Linked DNA regions of Homo sapiens: region 1 is linked to region 2. The links come from fine-mapping of genetic effects on gene expression. A gene starts in region 2. The other region holds a variant in brackets. All regions are shown on one strand. Distances are between the middles of the regions.

What was found.
Region 1: its variant is fine-mapped to the expression of CTSE in whole blood (TOPMed, PIP above 0.99).

Annotation. Positions count from the first base shown.
Region 1 is chr1:206,040,455-206,050,858 of GRCh38, forward strand. No RefSeq gene overlaps it. Among named protein-coding and RNA genes, the nearest start is that of RHEX, 7.5 kb to the right of the region's middle. RefSeq lists enhancers at 1,374-1,875, 7,129-7,298, 9,028-9,097, 10,252-10,404. The variant C/A (reference allele first, on the strand shown) is at 5,871.
Region 2 is chr1:206,019,235-206,029,638 of GRCh38, forward strand. It overlaps CTSE (cathepsin E), which reads right to left and starts at 4,661. Exons shown (of 9, transcript NM_001910.4): 1 at 4,490-4,661; 2 at 3,667-3,823; 3 at 2,916-3,033; 4 at 1,815-1,933. The coding sequence starts at 4,557.

The sequences.
Region 1 (10,404 bases), 21 kb after region 2:
TCGATCTCCTAATTCCCATTCTCTCCTTTCTTCCTAGACATGTCCTCTCTTTGGTTTTCAGCCTCTGGGAGGCAGACACCGCTAGGGGAGGTCAGTTCTCTCTGCAGCCTGCTCGTTTTAAAATTTTTTCTCTCCTCTCCTCTCATCCTTCTCTGTTTTAGCACAATATATAGTCACTGTAGAAAAATTAGAAAACAGGCCAGGTGCAGTGGCTCACACCTGTAATCCCAACACTTTCGGAGGTGGGAGGATTGTTTGAGCCAAGGAGTTTGAGGCCAGCCTGGGCAACATAGGAAGCCCTCATCTCTATTTTTTTTTTTTGAGACGGAGTCTCGCCCTGTTGCCCAGGCTGGAGTGCAGTGGCACGATCTGGGCTCACTGCAACCTCAAGGTATCTTGAGGTATCAAGATTGTTTCTGGGTATCAAGGTTGTTTCTCAATTGCTGCTGGTGTAAATGACACAGTAGTTCCCTACTTTACCCCCTGGATCTTTGCACACATTTTCTTAATTATGTCATTGGGATTAATTCCTCTAAGTGGAGTTGCTGAGTCTAAGGAGTATGGACATTTTCATTGCTTTTTTTTTTTTTTTTTGAAACGGAGTTTTGCTCTGTTGTTGCCCAGGCTGGAGTATAATGGCGCGATCTGGGCTCACTTCAACCTTCACCTCCCGGGTTCAAGCAATTCTCCTGCCTCAGCCTCCTGAGTAGCTGGGATTACAGGTGTGCACCACCACACTCAGCTAATTTTTGAATTTGTAGTAGAGACGGGGTTTCACCATGTTGGCCAGGCTGGTCTCAAACTCCTGACCTCATGATCTGCCTGCCTCAGCCTCCCAAAGTGCTGGGATTACAGGCGTGAGCCACTGTGCCTGGCCTTCATTGCTTTTTGATACCCACCACCAAATTGCCCTTCAGAGAGATGGTAACAATTTGCCTTCTTGCTAGAAAGTGTCTGTCTGCAGAACACTTCACTGGGCTGAGCATTTTAATTATTTTTTAAAAATAGTTTCAAATTGTTTTAACTTAATTTATTTGGTTTTTAGAGTTGGAACTTCTTTAAAGACATAGATAAATTTGGCCATCTTCATGTGTCTTTCTCCCAATAACAGCATTACAGAGCATCAGTTAGGTGCAGAGACTGGGCAGTGCACCCGTGTGCAAAGACAGGAGACACGAATCTTCCCTGAAGGAGTGACAGTCTAGGGAGGAAGGCAGACTGCAGGTGAGGTAACAGGTAACAGCTCTGTGTGAGGAATGCTATGATTGCAGGCACTGTGTGGGAGCCTCTTGCAGCCCTCCCGTGAGGGAGGGGGAGGCAGGGTTGGGGCGGAGTGTGCACAGGCAAGAACAAGCCTGGGGCACCGAGAAACTGCCAGAAGCCCAGGCTGGCTGCAGCATAAAGTGTAAGAGAGCACGGCTGGGAGGTGGGCAGGACTCAGATCATGGCAGGCCTTTCATGCCTGAGTAGGCAACCACTGTCAGGCAGGTTCACACACAGTAATCACATGCACGAGGTAACATGCGTGGAAGAGAACAGATGCTTTGCTAGCTGTCCTCTTGCCGCAGTCACTTTTTAACTAATCACTAAAAGGTGCTGGGTTACTATTGACCCCTACAGCACCTGTGTGGGATAAGGAAGGGGTACCCCAATGAAACAAACACAAGTTGGTTCTATATGAATTATATATATAAAATTATTAAATCCAAGATAATAGAAAATTAGTGTTTTTAGTCACAATACTCAGGATTTGAAAGTCTCTGGGATGTAACAATTCATCATAAGATAGTTTTAGTCATAAAATAATTTTCATGGGGACAACATTTTCTATGTCAATTTTAATGCCTGCTTGTTCCAGTTTTTTTTTTTTTTTTTTTTGAAATGGAGTCTCACTCTGTCACCCAGGCTGGAGTGCAGTGGCGCAATCTCGGCTCACTGCAACCTCCGTCTCTCGGGTTCAAGTGATTCTCCTGCTTCAGCCTCCTGAGTAGCTGGGATTACAGGTGTGCACCACCATGCCCCACTAATTTTTGTATTTTTAGTAGAGATGGTGTTTTACCATGTTGGCCAGGCTGGTCTCGAACTCCTGACCTCAGGTGATCTGCGCCCCCTCGGCTTCCCAAAGTGCTGGGATTATAGGCATGAGCCACTGCACCCGGCTCAGTATCTTATTTTCTATAAAAATGGTCACTAGAATTGATAGTCTTTCTTGTGACATTCTTGATAAGTAGCTTTTTATAATTGTTTTAAAAGTATCTACATTTTCCACTGCTGGCTGATACTACCAAAGTTAATGTATCCTAAGAGCTAGGATGGTTTTAGGAAAATGTGTCTGGTATATTATTACTGAAAATAAATTGAGGCATTTCATGGGAGGCAATTAGATTTTATTAATCTACTTATTTATTTATTTTTTGAGACAGGGTCTTGCTCTGTCACCCAGGCTTGAGTGCAATGGCACGATCATGGCTCACTGCAGCCTCAACCTCCTGGGCTCAAGCAATCCTCTGCTCTCCGCCTCCCAAGTAGCTGGGACTACAGGCATGTACCAACATGCTGGCTAAATTTTGTATAGATACAGTGTTTCACCATGTTACCTAGGCTGGTTTTGAACTTCTGAGCTCAAGCGATCCTCCTGCCTCCCAAAGTGTTGGGATTACAGGTGTGAGCCCAGCCATATCAACTAGATTTTAGAAAGCGACTTCAGGATTTTAGTTCCTCTTACACTAATGCTTCATCAGTATCACTCTTCCTCCTATGTTTCTCAATTTCAATTGTATATTTTTAATGGTTGCAGAAGCTCATATTTGTCATAATTTTTCAATTTATGCATGTCATCTAGAATACTGAAAAGACCTTGAGATATTCTTTATTATAAGCCTCTCTTTTAAAGAGATATTATTGCTTCCAATATAGAAAAAAACTAATTTTGCTATTGACCTTCAGATTGTAGAGGATTACAGGTGTGAGCCACCTCACCCAGACAGGAATTTTTAATATTTTATTCACTATTGGCTTTAAAGAATAGGCAACCTGGCCGGCCGTGGTGGCTCACGCCTGTAATCCTGGCACTTTGGGAGGCTGACGTGGGTGGATTACCTGAGGTCAGGGGTTCGAGACCAGCCTGCCCAACATGGTGAACCGCCATTCTCTACTAAAAATACAGAAGATTAGCCAGGTGCAGTGGCGTGTGCCTGTAATCCCAGCTACTTGGGAGGCTGAGGCAAGAGAATCACTTGAACCTGGGAGGCGGAGATTGCGGTGAGCCGAGATCAGGCCACTGCACTCCAGCCTGGGCGACAGAGCAAGGCAGCCTTAGAATCTTTTGGGGACCTATGCTGAAATCCATTAAGTTTGTCATAAATTTTTTTCATCTTTGTTGTATCTGCTCCCTCAAATCATTATAGCCTATATTCAGTGCTTCTGTTGGTGATGGTTGTGGTCAACCAAAAACCTAAATAATCCTTCTCCAGCTGTATCATTTACTGTAGGGAAAAAAATTAATGTTTACATATAGATATATTTGCATTTTGAAAATGTACAAATCTAAAAATAATTGTCAACTGTTCCACGTGGCTTACATCAGGAAATGTACCTCAAGTTATTTAACTGTGTGATATTTAGCACTTCTTACAAGATTCAAAATAACTTCAGTCAACAAATCTGCTATATTTTAATCATTTGGTTTTGCTTTTCATCTGCTACATAATGTGTAAATGCTATTTGGTGTTTATATATAGTATATAATATTTATATATAGTATATAATATTTGGTATATATTTGGTGTTTATATATAGTATATAATATTTGTACAATAATATACAAGTATATGTTTATATAAACAAATATATATTGTATATATACAAATTATTGCATATTTGAAACATACAATATATATTTGTATACTGCTGTAAATTCTATTAAGCTTCTATGCTTTTCGTAAATGAAGAAAATTCCTGTTATTATACTGCTTATACATTTTTGTAGATGATCCTCTGAATGCTAGATATTGTCTTGCCAAAACAGAATTGAGTTTTTTTGTTCAATGTAATATTTTCCTCATCATATAGAATCTGTTTTGCAGCATTAATAATTATATATTTCTAATCAGATTTGAAATTTGAATACTTAGCATTCCTATTGATGTTTATTTCAGATTCTTCATGTTTACAAAAAAATGTGCCAAGTGCTGTACAATCTTTGCATTCTTTCCCATTTTCCAGCTGATTTTTTGTTCTCAAAGAGCTGGCAAAATACAGAGTCCTTGGAAGTATAATAAAATAATCAGAATCTAGTCATTATTATTTCTCCTCACCATTTGGAAAAAATTTGTGTCCATTATATTTCCAAAAACTTCCAACCTGTATTATCTTTTGTAAAGATAAAAAATTTTTTACTTGAGGTGAATAATTTTCAGCAAGAGTACATCTTTGTTTCCTATTCAAACTACTTGGCCATGTGTTTGAATTCTTTGCATTTTTAAAGCTACTTTTTTTTAGATTCATCGATTATTTCTGACAATGGAACTAAAAGGTAAATTCACATCTCACATTTCTGTGACACATTCACTGAAACAAACAGCCCTAAACTCTCTATTTCTCCCTAAATTTATTCAATAATCCAAATAGTTTTACTTTACTTTCTATCTAGACAGCTTTTCATCTTCTAGTTTTAGTTTGATTTTTTTTTCTTATCAGTATCCTGGGAGAAATAATATTATATTAGCTTATTAAATGTTAAAGAAATATTATTAAGGCCGGGCATGATGACTCATGCCTGTAATCCCAGCACTTTGGGAGGCTGAGGCGGGTGGATCACGAGGCCAGGAGTTCAAGACCAGCCTGACCAACATGGTGAAACCCCATCTCTACTAAAAATACAAAAATTAGCCAGGCGTGGTGGCACATGCTTGTAATCCCAGCTACTCAGGAGGCTGAGGCAGGAGAATAGCTGGAACCCGGGAGGCGGAGGCTGCAGTGAGCTGAGACCATGCCACTGTACTCCAGCCTGGGCATCAGAGCGACACTCTGTCTCAAAAAAAAATATATATATATATATATGTGTATATATCTATATACATAATTAAAACATAATAGTAGTTTATCCTAGAACTTAAAACTTTAAAAAATATATATAATAAGCCATGAAACTTTACCAGCAGTTAGCTTTTCTCCTGAAGAAATTTTCTTTAACAACCCATAAACAATAGCTATGATACAATTCACAATTCATGATATAATAGTCTCTAATTTATGAATATAAAATAATTATTTTATGAATATATAATTGCCTATGATCATTAATTACCACAAAAGTGAGTTATGTAATAATAAAAATCCGTAGATCTAAATTAGGAATTCAGAGCTACCATTCAGGCAGACAATATGAACTGTAATGCAAAACTTCAAATTTAGCCAATACACAAATACTAATACAGGATTTAAAAAAAAATTAGATAAAAATCAAAACAAGAGTTGGAAAACAACTCCTTGTTTGGAAGCACTAGTTATTGTGGCACTCGTTACTTAAACCAATAAGGTCTTTGTCAAACACTCTCTGCTTCAGCTTATGAAGTAAATGTCAACCCTGTTAGAAAATCTATTTCCATCTGAAAGAAAATTGTCATAAAAAAGGATCTTTGTTAGAGAAGACATTTTATTGTTATTTGTCAGAAAACTATTTTAATAAGAATATGTCATCTACCTTTAGAGTTAGCAGTTAAATAAAAAAGTGAAAAAAATTCAACATAATGATGTCTGTGATGTGCATAGTTTCTGTCTTTCTTTTTTTTTTTTTTTGAGACGGAGTTTCACTCTTGTTGCCCAGGCTGGGGTCCAATGGTGCGATCTTGGCTCGCTGCAACCTTCAC[C/A]TCCCGGGTTCAAGCGATTCTCCTGCCTCAGCCTCCTGAGTAGCTGGGATTACAGGCATGCCCCACCACGCCTGGCTAATTTTTTATATTTTTAGTAGAGACAGGGTTTCTCCATGTTGGTCAGGCTAGTCTTGAATTCCCAACCTCAGATTATCTGCCCACCTTGGCCTCCCAAAGTGCTGGGATTACAGGTTGGATAGTTTCTTTAGATGTCATGCCCTTGAGCAATAAACAACCTGAACAACTGTCCTTAGCTACTCCAAAATTTATGTGGTTATTACAGCTAATAAAGATGATATAGAAACAATCTGTGTAGTAAATGAAAGGTAGTTTAAGGGATTTTGAGACCTCTGTTTGGATGCTGGTTTTGTTGTTTGCTAACTGTGACCTGGAGCAATTCACTTATCACTCAGTTACCTCAGCTACAAATGGGGATAAGTATGCCTCATCCTTTAAACTGCTGACCGGAGGTCACACGAGATATCCCCAGTTCTGAGTCGTCAACGAAATCGTAAGATGTGCATAAGGTTTCCATTTTGCACTTGTTAAAAATGTGCTTGCGGCCAGGTGCGGTGGCTCATGCTTGTAATCCCAGCACTTTGAGAGGCCGAGGCCGGTGGATCACTTGAGGTCAGGAATTTGAGACCAGCCTGGCCAACATGGTAAAACCCCGTCTCTACTAAAAATACAAAAATTAGCTGGACATTGTGGTGGGTGCCTGTAATCCCAGCTACTCGAGAGGCTGAGGCAGGAGAATCACTTGAACCCGAGAGGCAGAAGTTGCAGTGAGCCGAGATCACGCCACTGCACTCCAGCCTGGGCGACAGAGTGAGACTCTTGTCTAAATAAACAAATAAGTAAGTAAAATGTGCTTGCTTAAAAAAAATTTTTATTATGTTTTTAAATTGAATGAAGGATATGTGCAGAGCCAGTAAAGGATGGTAATATGGGATCAGTTCCTGTTAAGTCACCTGTGGACAGTTCTGGCTTCACATGTTCACTGGTGCTCTTTTGTAGGAGCCCAAGAGGCTGACAGTTTAATTTTCTTAGGATGCCAAATGTTAAGACACCTGTTTGACGTTTGCAAATAAGCTGCTGTGCAAAATGAAAACCTGATGGTGATCTTTAAAGCAACCCCAACCAATAAATACCTCTGTAATAAACCTCAAGAGGACGCAGGGTTTCTATTTGGAGAAATGAAATTCTGCAAAAGCAACCAGAAAAACATTTAAAGTCCTAGAAATGGTGAGAGTATATGGCTCCACTCGGTTACGGCAGCACATCTGTGGCCAGCCTGAAAAAGAGCAAAGGGAGTGTGTCCAACTTCTCATTCATTCAATGAGCATTTATTGAGGGCTGCTGTGTTCCAGGCACTGGCCTAGAAGCCGGGGAGATAAGTGAAATCAGACATGATCTCAGTCCACTGGGCTCTTGAAGTTCATGAACTGTCTTTCGTGCCCTCTGTCTTCCCAGGTTCTGTTCCTCCCTCCTTCTGCATCCTAGGTGACAGCCTTCCTTTCACCCTCAGGTGTACAATGCTCCCTCTCTTAGCAGTGATTTCAGATGTTCATCGAAGGAAAAATGGCTGGATATTCCAACTGCCATGCCTTCACTACAAGCACCCTCCCATCTGGTATATCCACAGCCTCAGCACTGCCATAGGAATCCTTCCTACACATCCGTGACCACAACAAATGCCACCTCCTCCATGTAGTCTTCCCTCGTCACTAAAGTTAGAAACAACCTGCTCCTCCTTTCTGATCCAATAGCCCTTTCTTTGTACATCTTTTTAGCTTTGATTATACACCTACCTTTTGTTACAGCTGCTATGGTTGCCGCGGATATTTTCCTCGCTAAATTGGGGTGGGGGGTGAGCGTGGGGTAGCACTCTCTGAACCCAGGGCCCGTGTCTCATTCTTCTCTATCCTTGTAAGCTGTCTCACGCTGCTAAGGACATACCATATGCTACAGAGAAGTTTGACTGGATTGGATTTTTTTTTCTTTGATTTTAGCTACCCAGAATCAGATTGATCAATCCCCCTAGTGGCATTCTTACATCATGGGTCCACGAACTGCTCTTATGTTCTATTTATTTCATATTTTTGAGTCTTTGTTCTCCATTTCCCGTCCGCTCCACCCATCCCACCCCACTCCTGTTATAGACACACTCTCTTGTTTTATTAAAGTGTGACCTTCGAATCTATCTTCCATAATGTTATTTGCACACTTGTGTAAGCTTGAGTGATACTTGAGATTGTTGGGATTGAATTTGCCTTTGGCTGAGGGAATGAAACACCTCCACTGGAATTTCAGGCACCAGCACCTGCAAGGAAGTTTTTTGAGGCAGTGGCTCTTGGAATCACAGCAGGAGGTAGTCAGCAGCTTAGTCCAGGGGCGGCGGACTTATCCAGCTTCCTCTTCCGCTTCTTCTGCAGGCTCCCCCAACCTCAGAGCCTCCTTGTTGCCTCATGCCTGGACTTTGCCCCTCTGGTAGAGCCTTTCTACACAGCCGCTGCACTGCCAGCCAGCAGGCTCCGGGGGGAATTCTTGTGTCCAAGCAATTGCTGTCCTCTTGACACATCGCTATTTGAGAACACCCAATCTGTTCCTCCTGAATCTTTTGGCTTGCACCCCTGGATGTAGCATAGCACACTCTTGGCAGATAAGGCAAAATGCTCCTCTCTTGCCCTATGGTGAAGAAATGCCATGGGTCCTTAGATCAGCAATTCTCAAACTCTTTGGCCTCCAGACCCCTGTACACTCTCAAAAAGTACTAAGGAACCCAAAACGCTATTGTTTATGTAGTTTATATCTATTCATATTGACCATATCAGAAATTAAAACTAAGAAAATTTAAAAATATTTATCTAATCCCCTTAGAAAATAGTACCAAAGCCATTACATCTTAAACATAACACTTTTTATGAAATATAACTATTTCCCAAAGCATGAAGAATTTAATGAAAAGAGAAGCACTGTTTTATGCATGTGCAAATCTCATTATTCATACCTAGCTCAATAAAAGACAGCTGAGTTCTCAGGTCTGCCTTTGCACTCAGTCTCATGCCATACCACATGTCACATAGACTTTGGGAAACTCCACTGTATGCTTGAGAGAAACTGAGAGTGAAAAAGGCAACTAGTATCTTAGTATTATTAAGAGAGTGGTTTTGACCTCATGAACCCTCTGAAAAGATCTCTGGAACCCCCAGGGGGTCCCTGGACTACACTTTGAGAACTGCTCCCTAGATCATTGGTTTCTTGATGACAAGGCCTTTTTCTATTCATCCTTACAGACTGGGTTATTTATTTATTTATATTTATTTATTTATTTATTTAAACTGAAAGACCAGTGTAATAGGACAGACTGGGCTTTAAACAGACTATGTAGTTGGCACTCAGTAAACTTTGCCTGAATTGTTTGGAAATGTCTGTGTCATGAGGGTTTATCGCTCCATCATCAGCATCCAGGGACATGCTATACTCACTCTAGTGATGCTGTTATTGCTGAAGGCGTTTGGATTCTCCTTGGAGGTCGGCCTTTAGAGAAATTGGTAGTTCTGTTGAATATCCTCAGTGATGTCATATCTTTGTTCTCTGAGGAGTGCTTTGATTTTTGGAAACAGCCAGAGTGAAATCTGGATTATAATATGAGTAGTCAAATTGGGTAACACTGTATTTTGGATTTGTAAAAAGGAATACTGACTTCCTAAAACTGGGATGGCAGATCTACTTTAATGGCCATTTCTCTAATTTTACACACATATTTACACCTGTGCAAATGATGTTTGTTGCAGTTTAATAATTACATCATCATTTCAAGTGTAAAAAGTGGAAACAATCTAAATTTACTACTAGATGACCAGTTAAATAAACTGTGAGCAACCATAGAACGGAACACTCTGAAGAGGAAGAAAGGAATGAGAAAGTTCTGTATGTATTAATAATAAATTAACTCCTAGATATATTAAGTGAAAAAGCAAAAGGCAAAACAAAGTATGTAGTACACTGTCATGTGTAAGGAAGACGCCTGTATGGTGAGTGTGTTTCTGTGTGTCTGTGTGTTTGCTCATGTACACATAACGTACACAATAAACTGGGCATGCTGGTTTCCTCCAGGGAGGAGAACTAGATGGCTGGGGTCAAGAGCAGATGAGCAGCTTTTCCAGGACTATCCTTTTGTACCTTTTGAATTCTAAAACCATCTGAATGTGACCTAATGAAACAAACACTTCAAAAGTCCCAAACTGAAAAGGTGATGATGTCCTCCCCTTACAAAATTAAAAATAAAAACAATTTTAACACTTAGAAAACCTATTCTCTAAAAGAATTCTCTGTATTTCCTGGCCAATAACACAATTGTTAGAAGAAATGTACAATGTACCAGGTGACATGTGGAAGGGGACAACAGAAGGGGGCAATGACAGGCACTTGTGAAAACATTTGCCTTTTTCTTGATCACGTCTTGTTCCTCTTCTCATCCTTGCTTCATTTCACAAATAGGGGAACTGAGTCCAAGTAAGTGAAGTGACTC
Region 2 (10,404 bases):
AGGATACTGTTTCTGTCCTGATGCTGCAGCAGCAGTCTACAGTTTGCACAGCAGAAAGGGAAGATAGATGTCAAGTGGGAGAAAAAGGGCCAGTTGGAACCCATGAGGGTGAGGGTGGACTGGAACCCACATTGTTCTCTCACTGTCCCCAAGTCTCCAGCCTCAATGATGGGGATGTTATGCAGCAAAAGCTGATGATTTGTTAGAGGTAAGTGCACACCTGGTCCTGGAGCCAGAAAAACTGAGGGAAGGAGCAATGCAGCTGACATTGCTGTGGGCTTGGCTGCTGCCCTACACCAGCCAGGTGAGCCAACAGATACGTGACAAGCTATAGGCTTGAATTCCCCTTTCTATGCTAATTTCAGTCCCTTCCCTGCATCTCAGAGGTTACTGTGATGATCAGTTAGGGATGTAGCCTTCAAAATAGTCATTTTAACTTTTATATATATATTATATGTAATTAGATATATAATATATATGTATATGTCATAATATATATAGAATCTTATATATAACATAATATATACACATTACATATATATTGTGTTAATCTATTATATAATAGATTAACATATTATGTAATATATTATGTTAATCTATTATATAATAGGTTAATCTATTATATAATAGATTAACATAATATATTATGTAATATATTATTACATACAACATATTAATATATTATATAACACATACTATATTATTAATATAATACATTATATCAATTATATTCTATAATATATTATATATTATATAACATATATTAATGTAATGTATTACATATTATATTAATTATATAATATATAACATGTATTATATGATATAATTATGCAATTATTATATACTTTAATATGTTACATATTGTATCTATATAATATATACAGATGGATATATATTATATATACAAATATACTGTATATTACATATATTCATATATGGATATTATATATTATATATTATATATGTAATGTGTGTATACACACGCATACATAGTTCCAATAGAAAATACAGTACATTGTTTTATCTGTATGATATTTTTACATAGATGGTGTTTTTCTGCTTCTGGCATTCTTTCAGTTGATAATATGTCCTACTCCACCCACTCTAAGGGATGTTGATGAAGGCTGTGCCCTGCTGGCCTCGGGAATACCCCAGGGACCAACGTTCACCAGGAGTAGGTCAACCTCTCTTTCTCCCAAGGCCCAGGCATATATTGCTGTCTATAAGCCTGAAAAAGTACCTGGCTCTCTGTCCCCACATTTGTCTGATTCCCATAGTTCTAGGACCCATAGGACTTCAGAGGGAGTCAGAGGGTCAGAGGTCAGAGGGAGTTTGAGGAACAGCTCATGAGCTCAGCACTGAGTTCAGTTTGGACCTTGGCCTTTGGACAACTGGGCTTCTGCCTTGCCTCTGTGATTGGACTCCCATTTCAGACCTTGCCCCCTTATGTTACTGAGTCCAAATCTCTCCCCCTGGTGTGGACTTCTTTATCCTTCAAGACGGAGACGTGGTTTTATCTCCTCAATGCCCTAGAGACTGGAGATCCAGCTGTGCACCCTGCCACCAGGCTTTGTGCACTGGGCACTGCTTCCTGCCAGAGTCCCCCTGTGCTGCTCTCCCCCAGGGCCCAGCGTGCTGTGGAGACTGACCCACTGCCACCATCTCAGGTGGGGAGTGTTGCTTGCCCTTTCTCCTAGAAGTTAGTGCTAACCCCTGTTTCCACCCATTCCTGAGGCAGATTTGAAATGTAAGACCTCTGAATAAGTCTCCCAAGTTTCTGTCCAAGAGAGAAAAAATGAAGGACTTGCACTCACAGAGACTTGGTCGGCTCCAATGATCCCGGACAAGCTCCCGGTTCCATACTGAATGGAGAAAGATTGACCTGGCTGGCTGTATGTGCTGGACTGGGAAGGCTGGAACCTGCTGTGCGTCTCTGGAAAGAAGTGCACTGCTCTTGCTTATGCCATCGGCTCACTGGCTGCATCCCTGCCCTAATGCCACCCAGCCCCACAGCGGCAGGGTCTCTTCCCTCAGCTCTCAACACTGAGTGGGGGCCCCTAGAAGCCTGGTGATGCCCCTCCCTAATGAACAACTACATTTCCCTCTAGCTACAGATGTGGCCTAACTGGGGACCAAATAGCTATCCCTGAGCAAACCTGATTGTCCACAATGACCTCATGAGGCACACCAAGATAAGTGTCATTTATCAGGCGCCAGCCACAGTCCCTGCCACCCATTGTGGGTCAGAGGTTGGCTTCAAAAGAAACTCAGGGATAAACAATTGCCCCAGGAAATTACTCCCAACTTTTCTCCCAACCGATGGACATCTCTAGCCTTGGGGTTTCCAGAGACATTCTGTCTCTGGGACTTGTCCTGTATCGAACAAGACATCTTTCTGTAGCTCTTCTTTTCCAATCCTCACTGAAACTTCTGAGTTACCTCTGGACAAATGGACCCACCCATGCCATTGTGCCCCACCAGCCCCACCTGTGTGCACCAGGAGATAAGGCTACCAAGCCTCCTTGAAACAAGCAGACTATCTACACTAGAACCCGACTCACCTCCCTGCTCAGAAATAACCAATTAAATTAAACTTCCCCTACATTCCTTTGGGTGTTCCAAAGGAAGTGAGTCATTATGTCAAAGATTTCTCTTTTCAATGGCTTTCTTTCTATTAATTCTGATCAGTATGAAAGTTACTCTCTTGGACAGCAGCCACATTTTAGTTCTTCCTTGGCTTTGCTCTATCTCTGCTATAAGCAGTTCCACGGCTGACTCAAAGATGGAGAGTGGAAGCTGGTGTGGCAGGGATGGCCAGTTTCTGGAACCTAAGCCCCCCTTCCCCAGAGTACCAGGCTTGGCCTCCCAGGACTAGCCCCCAGACATTCTCTGCTGGTGCTCCTGGCCCCACTTACTGCAGGCTGGGCTAGTGCAGTACACAGAGGGGACCCAGAGGTTGGAGGAGCCAGTGTCGAAGATGACAGTGAAGTTCTGTGGTGGGGAGCCAATGGAGATAGTGCCGAAGTATTCCATCTGCAAGGAAGAGTGAGAAGGAAAGAGGGTGTGGGTGGTGGGGAGGGACAAGGGTGCTCACCAGGAAGCCAGGGGAAAGCTCCCAGGGGCCAGAGCCTGGGGTAATACAGACTGGAGTTTACAGAGCCTAGGAAGTGGCAACGCTGGAAAATAAAAGGTAAAAGGAGCAGAGAAATGGCCATGAAGGAGGAAATCAAACCAAGCCTCTGGCTACTTCATTTGATTTTACTTGCACTAACCTGATTCTTATAAATACATTGTAGGAGAGGCAGTGGAGGAAGAACCATCTGTTTTACAGACCAGGGAACTGGGGCTGGGAGAGGTTAAGTAACTTGCCTAAGGGTACACAGCCAGTAAGCTGCCCAGCTGAGAGCAGAAGCAGGGGCCTTCAGTGTGGGATGATGCTTTCACTCCCAGCCCTTTCCTTCTGCAGAGAACTCTGACATTTGGGTACATGGGGGCCTGCTTAGCCAACTCCATGGGGACCCAGGGAATCAGTCCCCATGGATCATCATCCAAGTGAAGAAATCCACAATGGCCTTCGGTGCTACTGATGTGGCACTGGCCATGCCCTAATGCTGGGCCTTCCTCCCGCTCCCACCTCTCCCCAGCCCTGACCCCAGGAGGCCTCACATCCAAGTAGTTGATGAGGGGTTCCTTGGCACTCTGGTCCATTGAGCAGGACTCGGTGAACTGGATCATGTCCAAATTATGGGATTTCCAGAACTCAGAGAGCTGGCTCCGTGCCCGCAGCTTCTTCTTGAGGGACGGATGCCTCCTGAGGGGCACCCTGGAGACAAACCCCCATGTAAGCAGGAGATGTACTTCTGCCTCCCTCTTCCCCCCATTCTCGTCCCATTTTCTCAGGGGCCAACTAGAGAAGATGGGGTGGGAGGGGGGGATCTGCAAGACAGCACGCAGGATACAGGTGGGATCAGCGTCCTCTCTGCCACTCAGCCTGCCCGGCCTCATCTCTGCCCTATAGAGTCTTAGAATCTTAGAGTGGAAATGGCTCCCCTCCTGGAGCTGAGGTCTTTGAGATCTAGGAAAATGGGAGATGTGGGGCGGTCTACAGTTTTACATGAACATCACGAAGGGCTGATTTAAAGGGACAGAAAAACTCTTGGGGACAGTGATGGTCAGTCCCCTGGGGAAGTCCTGGGGCGCTTTGAGCTACAAACCACAACTGCAGGTTCCTGCTCTTTTGCAACACAAGAAGACCCCTGGGACTTGGGAAGGCACCTCCGTGGAGGTGGAGGCAGGAGGATGACTTGTTGAGGACTGGAGATTAAGGCCATACACAGGCGGTCACTGGATGAGTCTCTTCCATGCATTGACGCAAGCCCTCAGCTTCTCCTCCTCTTCACCTCCCCATCAGCTTTCCTACCCCAGAGCAGCCCTGAGTTGCAGGGCATGGGACTACCCAGCTGAACACAGTGCGGGGACGTCTTCTCACCTGTGAAGGGATCCTTGGGCCTCTCCCAGCTCCAGGAGCACCAGCAGCAAAAGAAGGAGCGTTTTCATTGTGAGTCCGACCAGCAGCTTCTCCCTTGCCCCCTCCTTTCTTCTCTCCCCGAGGGCAGTGGGAACGGACTTTCCCTAACTCTCAGACCTGCCCAGCCCAGTCTGAGGGCCGAATGATAAGGCCCTGGAGTCATTAGCCATGCCCAGAGTAAATACGGCATGTGGAACAGGGCGTTCCCCCTGCACCTCTCCGTCCCTTTCCCACCTACAAGAGGAATATGAGTCTGCGGGGAGAACTTGGGAGTCCTCTGGGGCTTGGCTTCTCTCAGGGCTTTGGCACCTCCTCTGACCCCAAGAAACCCTGTTAATGAATCCGGAGGGCAGCACATGCCTGGCTGCCTGGAAAGGCCCACTGAACTCTTACTGCAAGTGCTCTAGCTGGAGACTCTGGAGGGGTGGGAGCTGACTTGTCATGGGTGGCAGGATTCTAACTCAAAATATTCGTCAGTCTGTTTTCTGGGTGATTCCTGTTCTCTCCTCAATCTCTCAAATGCTCCAAAGGCAGTTTATCCTTCCCTGGCCCACTTTGAAGCACAAACCAGCACTCCTCAAAGGCCCTGAAATGGGAAAATGTAGCTGCAGATTTATGGAGCCCACTCTCCTGACTCTAAGGACTTGATGAATCTGGGGCTGGGGCTCAGGGGTGTGTGGAGGAGAATGCAGGGGCAGCGAGGGAGGGTCAAGGGGGTCAGCGTCTACAGCAAGTGCCCGCATGAGTCTACTAAAGCGGCCATGACAAAGTACAGGGGGCTTAAACAACAGAAATTTATTTTCTCACTATTCTGGAGGCTGGAAGTCCAAGATCAAGGTGTTGGCAGACTTGGTTGCTTCGGAGGCCTCTCTCCTTGGCTTGCAGATGGCTGCCTTCTCTCTGTGTCTTCACATGGGTCTTCCCTCAGCGTGTGGCTGTGTCCACATCCACATTTCCTCTTCTTATAAGGACGCTAGTCATATTGGAGTAGGGCCCACCCTAATGACTGCGTTTACCCTTAATACCTCTTTAAAGACCCTATCTCCAAATACAGTCACGTTCTGAGGTACTAGGTGTTAGGACATCAACATGGATTTTGGAGGACAAAGTTCAGCCCTTAACAGTGCTCAGGGACAATAGGATCTTCTATCTGTCAAGTGGGACTAAGCGCAGGGGTGGAGAGTGGGTGGGGCTCAGGCCTTAGTTACCGCAGTGTGTGAAACCCCCTCACCATCAGCCTATCTCTGTGGCCACCCGCCTCATAAACAGATGGTGGGGCTTCAGTGCCTGGGGTGGGGATGAAGGGGTTACAGGTAGGAAGACCCTGACCCTGACTCAAGTTAGCCAGGGCAGCAGAGGCCACCACCATATGCCAATGCTTCCAGAGGGCACTAGCTCAGCAGTAGGAAGTAGATGGCCTGCGTTTAGGTTTAGCTCTGCCCTGACCAGCTAGTGTTCTGGAAAATCTCTTAAGTGCTATGGGATCTGCCTTTCATCTCTGAAGTTCAAATGGCAAGCAAACGTGGAGTATGGAGCTAAGCCAAACCCACCCTTGGGTCCAAAAATGTTAAAAAAAGACATCAAAAAGACTTAAGGAACAGCCTAGACCTTTGACCCCTGAACCCAAGGCAACAAAGCCTCTTTGGCATTTCCCAGGAGCCCGTCTTGTTGATCTTTCACTGGGGAGAGTGGTCTAAACCTAGAAGGGCAGCTTGAGTCAGAAGTGGCTAGAAGTGGAGATCATTCATTTTGGCAGTAAACTCTGCCATGTTTTGCCCGTAACTGCTTATTCACCACATACCTTAGTTTTGTCATCTGCCAAATACCTTACCTACATCAATGGGTTTTTAAGGAGGATTAAACAAACAAAATAAGGTACAGATATACTTGTTGTACTGCACTCTGCTTTACTGCACTTTGCAGATACTGCTTTTTTTTTTTAATTGAAGGTTTGTGGCAAACCTGTGTCAAGCAAGTCTATCAGCACCATTTTTCCAATACTGTGTGTTCATTTTGTGTCTCTGTGCCACATTTTGGTAATTCTTGCAATATTTCAAAGTTTTTCATGATTATTTTATCTGTTTTGGTGATCTGTACTCAGTGATCTTTGATGTTACTGTTGTAATTGTTTTGGGGTACCACAAACTGCACCCGTGTAAGACAGAGAATTTAATAAGTGTAATTGTGTGTTCTGATTGCTCCATTGCTCTACTAACTGGTCATTCCCCCATCTCTCTCTCTCCCTCTCTTTCTCTCCCCCTCGGGCCTTCCTGTTGCCTGAGACACAACAATATTGAAATTAGGCCAATTAATAATTCTACAGTGACCTCTAAGTGTTTAAGTGAGAGGAAGATTTGCATGTTCCTCATTTTAAATTCAAAGCTAGAAATTATTAAGCCTAGTGAGGAAGCCATGTTGAAAGCCAAGAAGGGCTGAAAGCTAGACCTCTTACACCAAACAGTTACCCAAGTCATGAATGCAAAGAAAAAGTTCTTAAGGGAAATTGAAGGTGATATTACAGGGAACACACAAATGATAAGAAAGCAAAATAGTTTTCTTGCTGATATGGAGAAAGTGTTATTGGTCTGGATAGAAGATCAAAGCAGTGACAACACTCCCTTAAGTCAAAGCCAAATCCAGAGCAAGGCCCTAACACTCTTCAGTTCTATGAAGGCAGAGAGAGGTGAGGAAGCTGCAGAAGAAAACGTGAAGCCTATGGAGATTTCTGCAAGGTGAAGCAGAAAGTCCCAAAGCAGAAGCTGCAGCAAGTTATCCAGAAGATCTAGCTAAGATCATTGATGAAGGTGGCTACAATGAACAACAGATTTTTAGTATAGACAAAATAGCCTCATACTGGAAGAAGATACCATCTAGGACTTTCATACTAGAGAGAAGTCAATGCCTGGATTCAAATCTTCAAAGAACAGGCTGAATCTTTTGTTAGGGGATAATGCAGCTGGTGACTTTAAGTTGAAGCCAATGCTCATTTGCCCATTCTGAAAATCCTAGGGCCCTAAAAAACTATGCTAAATAGAGTTTGTTTGTGCTGTATCAGTGGAACAACATAGCCCTGGATGACAGTACATTGGTTTACAGCATGGTTTACTGGATATTTTAAGCTTGCTGTTGAGACCTACTGCTCAGAAAAAAAAAAATTCTTTTCAAAATTTTACTGCTCATTGACAATGCAACTCATTGCCAAAGAGCTCTGATGGAGATTTATAAGGAGATAAATGTTTTTATGCCTGCTAACCCAATATTCATTCTGCAGCCCCTGGATCAAGGAATAATTTTGACTTTCAAGTCTCATTATTTAAGAAATGCATTTTGTAAAGCTATAGCCACCATAGATAGTGATTCTGATGGATCTGGGCAAAGTAAATGGAAATCTTCCGGAAAGGATTTACCATTCTAGATGCCATTATGATTATTCATGATTCATGGGAGATCAAACTATAAAATTAAAAGGAGTTTGGAAGAAGTTGATTCCAATCCTCATGGATAACTTTAAGGGGTTCAAGACTTCAGTGGAGAAAGTAACTGTAGATGTGGTGGGAATAGCAAGAGAACTAGAAGTGGAGCCTGAAGGTGTGACTGAATTGCTGCAACCTCATGATCAAACTTGGATGGATGAGAAGTTGCTTCTTATGGATGAGTAAAGGATGTGGTTTCTTGAGATGGAATGTATTCCTGGTGAAGATGCTGTGAACACTGTTGAAATGCCAACAAAAGATTATGAATATTGCATTAACTTGGTTGATAGCAGTAGTAGGGTTTGAGAAGATTACTCCAGTTTTGAAAGAAGTTCTACTGTGAGTAAAATGCTATCAAACAGCATCATATGCTACAGGGAAATCTTCAAGAAAGGAAGAGTCAATCTATGTGGCAAACTTCATTGTTTTCTTAGTTTAAGAACTGGGCGCTGTGGCTCGTGCCTGTAATCCCAGTATTTTGGGAGGCCGAGGCGGGCAGATCACCTGAGGTCGGGAGTTTGAGACCAGCCTGACCAACATGGAGAAACCCCATCTCTACTAAAAATACAAAACACCTGGGTGTGGTGGTGCATGCCTGTAATGCCAGCTACTCAGGAGGCTGAGGCAGGAGTATTAATTGAACCTGGGAGGCGGAGGTTGCAGAGAGCCGAGATCCTGCCACTGCACTCCAGCCTGGGCAACAAGAGTGAAACTCCATCTCAAAAAAAAGAAAGAAAGAAAGAAAGAAATTGTCATGGCCACCCCAAACCTGGAGCAACTACCACCTTGATCAGTCAGCAGCCATTAATGTCCAGGCAAGACCTCCGCCAGCAAAAAGGTTATGACTCCCTGAAGGCTCAGATGATTGTTAACATTTTTAGCAATAAAGCATGTTTTAATTAAGATGTTTTTAGACATAATGCTATTGCACACTTAATAGACTACAGTACAGGGTAAACACAACTTTTGCATGCATTTTGAAACCAAAAAACTTGTGTGATTGACTTTATTGCAATTTTCACTTTATTGCAGTAGTCTGGAACCAAACCCACAGTAGCTCCAAATGATGCTTGCATGTGGAAGTTCTTGAAAAACTGTAACATGTCATGTGAACTAAAGATTGTCACTAAAAACTTCAGTGTTTCAGAAGTGCTGGAAGGGTTCTTACAGACTCTCAAGACAAACCCACTTGTATAGCAGAATGAGAAAACTGAGGCAGAGAGGCAAAGTGATCAGCCCAAGAGCACATGGTTCATTTAGTGGCTGATCTAGGATTAGGACTCAGCCCTCCTGACTTCTAAGCGGGCAAACTTTCTGCTACAGAATTATAGCATCATTATCACTGAACTGTTGAAAGGGGGCTAACCATAACCCCTCCCTCCTTTTCCATCTTTTAGACCTCTCCCTGCATCCCTCTTGCCCCTGTTTACTAAATGTAGAGAGTTTGCCTGGCCCAGGCTTGAGAAAAAGCTGACTGGTCCTTGCAGCTGTGGGCCACCTGACTACTGAGTGGAGCAGACACAGCCTCGACTGCCTGCAAGGAGCCCCTGGGTCTAGCTGGATTTTGGAAAATTTGACAAAGGTTAAGAGCAGGAACACTGGGGATGTTTGTCAGAGCTAATGGGATCTGTCCTCTCCAGAGACACCAGGAACTGAACCTACCCTGGCTGTAGATTACTGGCCTTTTCCAGCAAGAACCAAATATTGCTGTGGACAATTTGAACACTTTCCAAAGAACAAAAGACCTTAGGCATATGTGTGGTTGTCTGTGTGTGTCCTTTGAGCAGAGGGAGAGAGAAGAGCATTTGAGGTGAAATAGTATGATGTGGGGGAAAGTGACACATAGTATAGTCAATGATCCGGTCTCTCTGCATTAGGAGAGGGTCTTTGGAGAGAGAGAGAGAGGGGTGGGGGGAGAGAAAGAGACGCTCAAGAACGTGGATTGGAGGCTGGCTGGATGTAGAGACTTTGTTCCCAGAACATTTGAAAGCTGGTGGTGGTGTCACTATCTAGTGAACTTCTTTCTGGAGCTTCAGCTTCCAGAAAGTAAATTAATAATAAGAGGACATTTGGGAGGCTGAGGTGGGCTGATCACTTGAGGTCAGGAGTTCAAGACCAGCCTGGCCAACATAGTGAAACCTTGTCTCTACTAAAAATACAAATATTAGCCAGGCATGGTGGCACGTGCCTGTAATCCCAGCTACTCAGGAGGCTGAAGCGGGAGAATCTCTTGAACCTGGGAGGCAGAGGTTGCAGTGAGCCCAGATTGCTCCACTACCCTCCAGCCTGAGAGGGCAACAGATGTCTCAAAATAAAATAATAACAATATAAGAGGACAGTTGCTCAGTGCTCTGTGGATAAGTTTTATCAGGGCTCGATAGCTCCTAGAACAGAGTCTGTTAC